Homo sapiens: one gene and its partners. The protein of the gene in region 2 interacts with the protein of the main gene of each other region in a pairwise test. Each region holds a gene or a part of one and is shown on either strand. Other genes may lie near its edges. The genes, in order: EPSTI1, PPM1D and CASZ1.

What was found.
Region 1: the proteins of PPM1D (region 2) and EPSTI1 interact in a two-hybrid assay, tested with the Homo sapiens proteins (one large-scale study listed by BioGRID and IntAct).
Region 3: the proteins of PPM1D (region 2) and CASZ1 interact in a two-hybrid assay, tested with the Homo sapiens proteins (one large-scale study listed by BioGRID and IntAct).

The regions. Positions count from the first base shown.
Region 1 is NC_000013.11:42,885,858-42,888,690, forward strand, and holds the end of EPSTI1 (epithelial-stromal interaction protein 1), read right to left. Parts: intron 2,646-2,833; coding exon 2,637-2,645; coding exon of another isoform or gene 2,393-2,636; 3' UTR 531-2,392; downstream 1-530. UniProt on the Homo sapiens protein: Plays a role in M1 macrophage polarization and is required for the proper regulation of gene expression during M1 versus M2 macrophage differentiation.
Region 2 is NC_000017.11:60,617,071-60,620,726, forward strand, and holds part of PPM1D (protein phosphatase 1D), read left to right. Parts: intron 1-3,656. UniProt on the Homo sapiens protein: Involved in the negative regulation of p53 expression. Required for the relief of p53-dependent checkpoint mediated cell cycle arrest.
Region 3 is NC_000001.11:10,790,095-10,793,750, forward strand, and holds part of CASZ1 (zinc finger protein castor homolog 1), read right to left. Parts: intron 1-3,656. UniProt on the Homo sapiens protein: Transcriptional activator. Involved in vascular assembly and morphogenesis through direct transcriptional regulation of EGFL7.

The DNA of each region.
Region 1 (2,833 bases), on a different chromosome or scaffold from region 2:
GGGTGCAGTGGCTCATGCCTGTAATCCCAGCACTTTGGGAGGCTGAGGCAGGCGGATCACCTGAGGTCAGGAGTTTGAGACCAGCCTGGCCAACGTGGCAAAACCCCGTCTCTACTAAAAATACAACAATTAGCTGGGCGTGGTGGCGGGTGGGAGACTGTAATCCCAGCTACTTGGGAGTTTGAGGCAGGAGAATCTCTTGAACCCGGGTAGCAGAGGTTGCAGTGAGCCGAGGTCATGCCACTGTACTCCAACCTGGGCAACAGAGTGAGACTCCATCTCAAAAAAAAAGAAAAACAACAAAAATAACTTGGCTGACCATCACCTGATGGTTGCCTGACATTCCTGGTAGTGGGGGCCTCTCTTGGCCTGCTCCTGTCTGCCTGACTATCTACTATAATATAACTAAGCCCAGTAGTAGGGGAAATCCTTTGTTTTGTTAAAATAGGCCACTGGGTAGAGGTTGTTGCTTTGTAGATTTTAGGATCTATCAACATAATACCAAGAAGAAACCACAAAGGAAAAAGTGGTAAATCCAAATACAAAAGTGTTTAGAAGTTTATTAAACATTTTATTACACACCTGTATTGCCTAAAGTTTCTATAACAAACATCTTACATTGGAACGATTTTCTTGTTTTTATTTTCTACAAAAAAAAAAGCGGGGGGACATTAAAATTAAGCATAGAAATGGTGGAACTTTGGGATTTCCTGTCCAGTCACCTGCGAGTCAGGTTTTATTCCAATTGATTCAACGTGGCAGATTAAATGTGAAAAGTAAAATGGTGGGCTCCTTTAGGCAGCAAGTCTTGCTTCTCTCCTGGTTACCTCTGCCTACATAGATATTTGGTTAAGCAAGATGTTTATACCCCCACACATATTCTAGATAGTTCTGGTCATGAAGTAAGTCACAATTTTCCATATCTGCACAATTTTTAAAAAATGGAACTACCCATCTGCACAAAATCTTTGGGAGTGCAGGGTAGGCCAGGCAGTGGAGGAGAAATTGACACCAACTTCCCTGAGAGCTTCCAAAGTAAGAAAGCATCCCTTTTTCCTACGTCAACTCCTGGTTGCATGCTGGAAAATGCAGCAAGTGAGGCACACCAAGCATAGACGCAAAAATCGGAACACAACTGTAAGGTAGCCAGGCTGGCAGGTGTAGGGCCGAAATGGCTGCACACCACCACACTAAAATGTCTGCTACAGCCGCACATTTACAATCAGTTTGGTGATATTTCCAACACAGGCTGGGGGATTGAGTTTCCCCCATATAAGGCAATGACAAGGATTTCAAATGGACCAAACATTTTATATTAGTGTCAACAGCACTAACACAGCTTCAGCTGGCGGAGGAGAGGGAAACCAAGAATATCCACATTATTTACTCCAGAGAAACTTCCTGACACCATCTGTTCTCTGTTACCCCCCACCCACCAATGTGGCCCTTTCCTAGTGCACCCTTGCCTAGCTCTGCGAACCCCTCAGTTATGTCTCTTGGCCCAAGAATTTCAAAACCCCATGTTTTCCTGAATAAAGAGATTCGGAAAGTTCATTTCAACAGAGTGACTGGTAACACAGAAGATCTCTTAATGCTGCAAAGTATTATTAGTTGTCCAGCTGCAAAGATGATTTGTTGTATTTACCTTTATTCTAGGATTGAATGTAATGCTTTTGCTATACAATGTGGTGGCTGGGGGACGGTGAGGCGGAGGGGACAGAGGGATTGAGCTAGATTACACAGCGTAGAAAATCAATGCTCTTACACTCTAGGGTCTGAGAACTGGTTCAGGGTCACAGAAGTGAATAAGAAAGCCAACTGAACTAGCAATAGGAAATAGGTTACACAGAGCAAAGAAAAAACAAGTTTCTGAAACATGTACAAACTACATATGATGTCTATATTTGTGTCTAGCTGATGTGTATACAAACATTGGCCTTTCTGGAGATAAACTGTCCCCCTCTGAAAATCAGGGTAACACTATTAGTAAGTCAAGACCAAAACAAGAGCCAACAGTAATGACAGTACTATATTTGATCTATACGGCCTGGAAAAGGGAATTAAAATGAGACCCTTCAAGAGAGAAAACCCCAATAACTTTTCATTAAAAATAAAAATGACCCATTTATACAGAAGGAGTTCAAAATTTATTTATAAATTTGTGTAAAAGAATATAAGACCTTTTTCTTTTGTACATATTTGTACCATAAAGAAAGTAGGGATTAAAATCTAAAAAGACCCCCAAAGCTTTCAAAACCTGATCTGAGAATTAGATAAGAATATGTCACTTAGAAAGACAAGCCTGTAGCACCCATAGCTCTGATTAACCTGAAAGCATCAAGTGACTCCCTCTTTTTCTACCCTACCAACATCACTCTAATTATACTTCCAATTAGAAAAATAATGTAGCATTTCCCTGGCAGTAGAGATTAAATATGAGTTCAGGAATCAGCTCCTCCAAACATGCATAAATGAGGACAAGGAGAAGCCAGTCACTCCTGACTGCACGGTCAAGTGTGTGGGCAGTTGAAATTAAGGTAAAAACAGTGAGGCTGAACAAAATCACATTAAGAAAAAGCATCTCATGAGGCTTTTCGAGGTCAGTTGATGAAGGCCAGATAGGAGTCAATATTTTCTCATATACCCTGGAAGAAAAAGAAAACAAAAATTACTGCAAGCAGCAAAATAAAATTCAAAGCCTTTGTAGTCAAAAATGAAGTTCCTGCAAAGAACGCTCTTATGCATCAAGCTGAAATGACCATTTTTTAAAATTAACAACTTAAATGACCATTGAAACGATTTGATTTTCAAGTCACATTGCATTTGATTCACA
Region 2 (3,656 bases):
TGAAGAAGTTAGAACTAACAGATGCATGCCACTAAACCTGGTTAATTAAAAAAAAAAATTTTTTTTTTTTTTTTGTAGAGACAGAATGTGGCTGTGTTCCCCAAGCTGGTCTCCTGGCCTCAAGTGGTCCTCCTGCCTTGGCCTCCCAAAGCACTGTGAATGTAGGCATGAGCCACTGTACCCTGCCAAATTTTGTGTTTTGAATGTGCTGTAGAACTTCTGAGAGTTCGCCTCATTTATTCATTCACATTTATTGTAGTAGAAGTTTTTTTTTTGTTTGTTTGTTTTTTAATTTACTTCAGTTTGTTTAAAAAGAAAGAGGATAGCCAGGCACAGTAGCACATGCTTATAGTCCCAGCTGCTTGGGAGGCTGAGGCAGGAGGATTGCCTGAGCCCAGGAGGTCAAGGTTGTAGTATGTGATGATCACACCTGTGAATTAGCCTGCACTCCAGCCTGGGCAACATATTGAGACCCTGTTGTTAAAAAAAAAAAAAAATAGAAGAAAGGGTTTTATCAAAAGCTAGTAAACACCCCAAATAATTGAAAGGGCTGAAGAAACATACAGTATACTCTAGGCTGAGCTTCCATGAAATAACTTCTGCAACCAGATTGCAAACTGGATGGGCTATGAAGCTGTCCTTGCTGTGATTTCTGCCGGCAAAATTGATACCTTTTCTCTGCTTTTTTTTTATTTTAAATATTGCAAAATAAGCATATGTATAGAAAAGGTCATAAAACATAAATGTACACTTCAATGAATAATTATAAACTGAACACCATCCAGTTAGGAAAGAACATTGTCTGCACTGCAGATATCTGTATGTCCTTTCTGATTTCATATTTCTATCTCCCCCTAAAAAACTACCTTCCTGACTTTCATCATGAGAGTTCTGTAATGGTTTACTTGTTTTTCTTAATAGTTTCACCACTTTTCTCTAAACATGATGGTTGTTTTTGAAGAAAGTCATGCTCTATGTGTTCTTTTATCATGTGCTGCTTGTGAGATTCTTGTGTGCTTTATGTAGTATTGTCCATTTTCATGTTGAACAACTTGGGCTGTTGCCCATTTGTAGCCCTTATTATTGTTTTAGAGACAGGGTCTTGCTGTATTTCCCAGGCTGTAAACTCCTGGGCTCAAGCGATCCCCCTGCCTCACAGCCTCCTGAGCAGCTGGTACTACAGGCACATACTACCATGGTTGACTCATGTATTTGTTGTGTATGTATGTTAATTTGTGGTATATACCTAGGAGGTAGTCAAAGAGTATACATATCTTTACCTTTAATAAGTAATGCCTAAATGTTACCTGCAATGTACCAGTTTACACTTTCACAGTAGTTGATGATAGTACATGTTGCTCCATTTTCTTGACCACAGTTCGGTTGCTATTGTCGAACTTTAATTTGTGCGGTCTTGTAGTTATGCAGCACTATCTCATTGTGGTTTTAAATTAGTATTTCTCTGATAATTAAAGAAGCTGAATACCTTTGCATATTTTGTGGCTGTTTGGATTTCCTATTTTGTAAAAGGCTTGTTTAAGCTTTTTGTCCATTCTCCCATTTGGGTAGTCTGTCTCATTGATTTGATTTGTAGGAAAATTTTATATATTCTGGATGCTTTTCCTTTGGCGCGTAGGTGTGTGTATTCTGTTCTCTGTGTTGTTTTTATTCTAATAATGGTATCTTCTGAAGAATAGATTTTTTTAGTTGCTTTTAAAAAAGATGTGCAATGTGATAGATGATTTTATGTATGTATACATTGTGAAATGATTACCACAGTCAAGTTAATTAACACATCCATCACCTCACATAGTTACCTTTTTTTGGTGGTGAGAACACTCAAGATTTATTTTCAGCAAATTTCAAGTATACAAAACAGTATTATTAACTATACTCTCTGTGTTGTACATTAGATACTAAGAACTTACTCATAATGGGAAGTTTGTGCTGTTTGACCAACATCTCCCCACTTCTCCTAACCCCTAATCCCTGGCAACCGTCCTTCTACTCTTTCCTTCTGTGACTTTTTCTTTAGATTCCACGTATAAGTAAGATCACACAGTATTTGTTTTTTCTGTGTTTGGCATATTTCACTTAGCATAATGTCCTACAGGTTCATCCTTGTGTTGCACATGGCAGGATTTCCTTTTTTTTTTTTTATGGCTGAACGATATTCCATTGTGTATACATACATTTTCTTTATTTATTTATCTCTTGCTGGATACTTAGATTGTTTTCATATCTTGGATGTTTTGAATAATTCTGCAGGGAGTGTTGAGGTACATGTATCTCTCTGAGAGACTGATTTCATTTTCTTTGGATATACATTCAGAGGTGCAATTCCTGAGTCATATGGTACTTCTATTTTTAGATATATTTTTAATTCTATAATATTTTCCATAATAGCTATGCCAATTTACATTTCTATCAGCAGTGTACAAATGTTCTCCCTTCTTCACATCCTGGCCAGCACTTGTTTACTGTTATCTTTTTGATAATAGCCATCCTAATAGGTGTGAGGTTATCTCTCTCTTTATTTTTTTAATTTTTTTTTAGATGGGTCTTCTCGCTCTGTTGCTCAGGCTGGAGTGCAGTGGTGTGATCACTGTAGCCCCAGACTCCTTGGCTCAATGGAACCTTCTGTCTCAGCCTCCTGAGTAGCTAGGACTACAGATGTGTGCTACCATGCCCGGCTAATTTTTAAATTTTTAGTGGAGATGGGTCTCGTTATGTTGTCTATGCTGGTGATAAATTCCTGGCCTCAAGCGATCTTCCTGTCTCATTTTGTTTTTGATTTGAATTTCCGTCATGATGCTTGATGTTGAGCTTCTGTTCATATACTTGTTGCCCATTTGTATGACTTCTTTGACAAATGTCTATTCAGGTCATTTGCCCAGTTTTTTTTTGTTTTTGTTTGTTTTGTTTTGTTTTGTTTTGTTTTGTTTTGAGACAGAGTCTCGCCCTGTCGCCCAGGCTGGAGTGCAGTGGCATGATCTCGGCCCACTGTAAACTCCACCCCCTGGGTTCAAACTATTCTCCTGTCTCAGCCTCCCCAGTGGCTAGGATTACAGGCGCCTGCCACCATGCCTGGCTAATTTCTGTATTTTTCGTAGAGACGGGGTTTCACCGTGTTAGCCAGGCTGGTATTGAACTCCTGACCTCCTGATCCACCCACTTCGGCCTCCCAGAGTGCTGGGAATACAGGCATGAGCCACCGCGCCCGGCCTGCCCAGTTTTTAACTGTGTTTTTGTTTGTTTGTTTGTTTTGCTATTGAGTTGTATGATTTCCTTATATATTTTGGATATTAATATCTTACCACATAGTGTAAAGTTTGTAAATATTTTCTCCTGAAAGTTGCCTTTTCATTTTGTTGATGGTTTCCTTTCCCGTGCAGAAGCCTTTTAGTTTGATGTAGCCCAACTGTTTTTTTCTGCTTTTGTTGCTGTTTTTTTTGTTTGTTTGTTTGTTTTTTTGAGACAGAGTCTCGCTGTACTACACAGGCTGGAGTGCAGTGGCGTGATCTCAGCTCGCTGCAATCTCTGCCTCCTGAGGTTAGGATCCCTCCTGAGCTGGGATTACAGGTGTGCGCTACCATGCCTGGCTAATTTTTGTATTTTTAGTAGAGACAGGCTTTCACCATGTTGGTCAGGCTGGT
Region 3 (3,656 bases), on a different chromosome or scaffold from region 2:
CTCGCAGAGCGGCGTGGCAGCCAGAGGAGAGATCACCAGGCAGCCAGAACCACGGCTGACTTCTGGCCATCTGGGACTTTTTAATTTCAAAATAAGAAAGCCAGTAGAAAGTGGACAGAGAAGAAACCAACACGGGGTGCTGGCAATGATGCTTCCAGCCTGCACCCTCCCAACCACGCCACGTATCCCGGGCACAGGGACCGGCCTTATCGGTCTGCCGGGCTGCCCTTCAGAGAAAGGGAAGAACAGATCCTAATGAAATTACGGTTTTTAAAATGTCTATAAATTAAATCTCTCTCCTCTCTCCGTGAATCTCCCCCTGAGCTCCCTCTCCTCTACCAGGCTTGTTTGCCTCTCTTCGGTTCCCTCTGCTCATGTCTGTTTTTCTGATATAGACATCAAGAGGTTACGGGCTCAATTACAACTCCGCTGGAGTCTCAGCATCAGACTGGCTCGGCCTTCTCTTCTCCTCTTCAGAAACAAGATACCAAATAAATCTCTCTTCTTTATATTTTTATTTTCAATGCCAAAAGCCTAAAGATTCATTCCGTGGACTCACAGCCTTTTTGAACTTCGTTCAGATGGTGGGGAGAATATTCTTTTTAATTGTGTGTGAGTACAACATAAATGCTTCTCTCTTTATCTCGTTCCCCCCTTGTAAGGACACACACAAAAACCTTGGCTATGCCTGACATTTTAAAAAGGGGGAGAGGATGGTATAAATGTACTTAATGTATGTCTATAAGAGGGGGCGAGCGAGCCCTGGAGAATATTAGTAGGACATCTAGCACATTCTAAAGTTTGGGGGGGGACATCATGAGGAATCTTATTAGCAAAGGTCCATTTGTAAAGGGTAGATCATAAAAGGTGATTTTTTTTTTAAAAAAGAAAAAATTTGCTTCTACCTTCCCTAATACTGCCACGAGATGCAGAAGGGGAGATGTGCCATCTATATAATTTTACATCCGAAGAGACCCTCTTCCCATCAAAAAAAAAAAAAAAAGTTGAAAAATCCAAGTGTTAGTCAATCATCAGAGCTGTTGATTCCCGAGAAGAAGAAACCAGCTCTGAGTTGTAGGTCTAAGGGGAAAAGCAAAACAAAAACAAAAACCCCACTATACTTCTGGAAATATTAACCAGTGGGGATTCCAAAAGCTACTTTTCCTGGAAAAAGCACTTGAGACAAAGGTCGGAGAAAGCGGAAGCTGAAGGTGAAGCAAAAAGAAAAACTTAGTCTTTCCAATTAACTAGACTGGGAAAAAGAAGGGAGGTGGGAAAACACATTACTACCAACTCATTAATTCTTTCCTGTAAACAATTTAATTAAATTCTGCTAAATACAGGAGAAATACTTATTTTGGAGTGCTTCCCCCAACCTCAAAAGCAAATTCCTCCAGGTTCCTCCCCCCGTCATGCTAACACCTCCCTTGTCTCCAAACTACACAACCTTTCAGTGGGTTTCCAGCCCAGGCGTGGACTGCACTGCTGAGGGCTGCGAGAATGACAGCCTCATATGTCTGAAAGCTGACACTTCAGCCTTGAAAAGAAATGGGGGAAAATAAGCTGTTGACTTCTTGGTTAAAGTATTTTCTTGTTCTACTCATGTTCTTATGTCACTGGGCTAAAAAAAGAGAGAGAGAAAAAGAGGGGGAGAGAGAGAGAGAGAAGAGAGAGATGACTTTCCTTGAATGATCTGTTTAACCTAAGCCAGAGGAAAAAAAAGAAAGTCATTAATTACTTATGTGAGCTATTGCTTCAGAAAGACAATAAACCTGCCCGGTCGCCATGGATATGACATATTTGCTCTGAAAACAACACAATAATTAGCAAAGGGGAAAGATACAAGGAGAATATGCAAACTCCTGAGTTTAAAGCCACAGTGCTCTTTTCTACTCGTAAGCCTCTGTTCTGTTTGCAATCCAAATCAAACAAATTTTAAAAATATAGCAAAGAGGGAAATAATAGGAATGGTTCCTCTCGCCTCTGAGCTGAGCAGCAACAACCACTCTACCTCCCTCCCTCCAATATAAAATAATATAAAAGAGAACCAGGGTGGCAGAAAGAAAGAAAAAAAAAAAAACTCAAGTATTGCCTGTTTTATTTCCTATAGCAGGGGTGGAGTCAGTTTTTTTTTTTTTTAAGTGTGCTCTTATTTAGCATTGAACCTTCTGGCCAGATATAAATTTATTTATGAAAGCCAAATGCTCTGTACATGGCTTACCCCTCCCCCCCGCCCCCCCCCCCCCGGCCCCGCACACAAAGTAAATGGAAATGTGGAGGGGTGGGGTTGGGGGGGGTGTCCAGTTGAAAAAGTAAAGCAGTATATTCAGAAAGCACCATCTCTATGGAAGAACATTCACTCCCCCTACCTCCAAGAAAATGCAACCCCTGCCTTACTTTAATATTAAAAATGCATTAAATGGTTCTACCTACAACTTAGTCCCAAAGGATCATTAGGAAATGCAATCGCTTTGTATCATATCTGTCAGCGTGATAAATATCTGAGTCAGAGTCAGTTTGCAATTTTTCAGTGTCACAAAACAAGATAATTTTTTTCTGTCTTCCTTTCTTAATTCACTGCACCGCCTCCCCACGCCCCCACCCCCACCCCCAACCAGTCACAAATCTACAGAAAAATACCTGGGCAGAGAAGAAAAGGAGAAAAAGTTGATGTACTCTCACATACCAGACAGAGGTTATCGATATTCTCCCAAAAAGCAGGCAAAATTGAACTTTAAAATATTTGGGTGACAATTTTCCCCAAAAAATAAATAAATAAATAAAGCACTCCAGTAAGTTTGACTAAAAACTCCTTTTCCCCTCTTCCCAGAGGCTAATTTTCCTAAAACAGATGGTCAGGATCTAAAAGAGGAGCAAATATACCTCAACCCCCACAGGCAGAGAAATCTAACTTTGAACTTCTTTTAAATTAAAAAGGGGTGGGGGGCAAGATAAACTATTAATAAGTGTGAAAAAAATTAGCTGAGCTACAAGTTTTGTTTTTCTTATTAAAAAATTATTTAAACATAAGGGGAGCAGATATAAAAGGGAGTTTCATATTTAACTGACTTTCTTATTTTTTTAAACAATAGCTTTTTTAAAAGATTGGACTCTTTGATCTTGAAAGAATTTTGCTCTTATATGATGGGGGGAGGAAGGGGGTGGTGGTGAAATGATCTGTTTTAAATGATGATGCAACTTAGAGATCAAAGCCTTCGCTTTCTTCTAGCCATAATAAGCTGTACTTGCCACAAAGCGTAAGGCTCCCGGGCTGGGCTCCTCTCCTTCGTAAGAAGGAAATAAAATGCGCCGAGACTCAGAGCAAGACTCCAAGTCTCGGCAAGGTGCAAAGTCTAAAAAACAAACAAACAAGGCAAGGGGAAAAAAAGAGGAAGGCACTGCCCCTTTAAACGTTTTAGTGCATATGGAGTTTGATTTCTGAAAGAGATCAGTTTAACATCTCCATAGAAACCAGCAACAGATTATCATCAACAGAATAAATAACTAGTCTAATAAATTAAACAGGAGGCATAAGATCGCTGGAAACCTGATTACTGAAGTTCAACAATATTCCCCATAAACTCTCCTTAACCGCCTCTAAGGTGGCTAACAAGAAGGGGGTGGGTGGCGGGGGGGCGGGGCGGCGATCTCTCCAA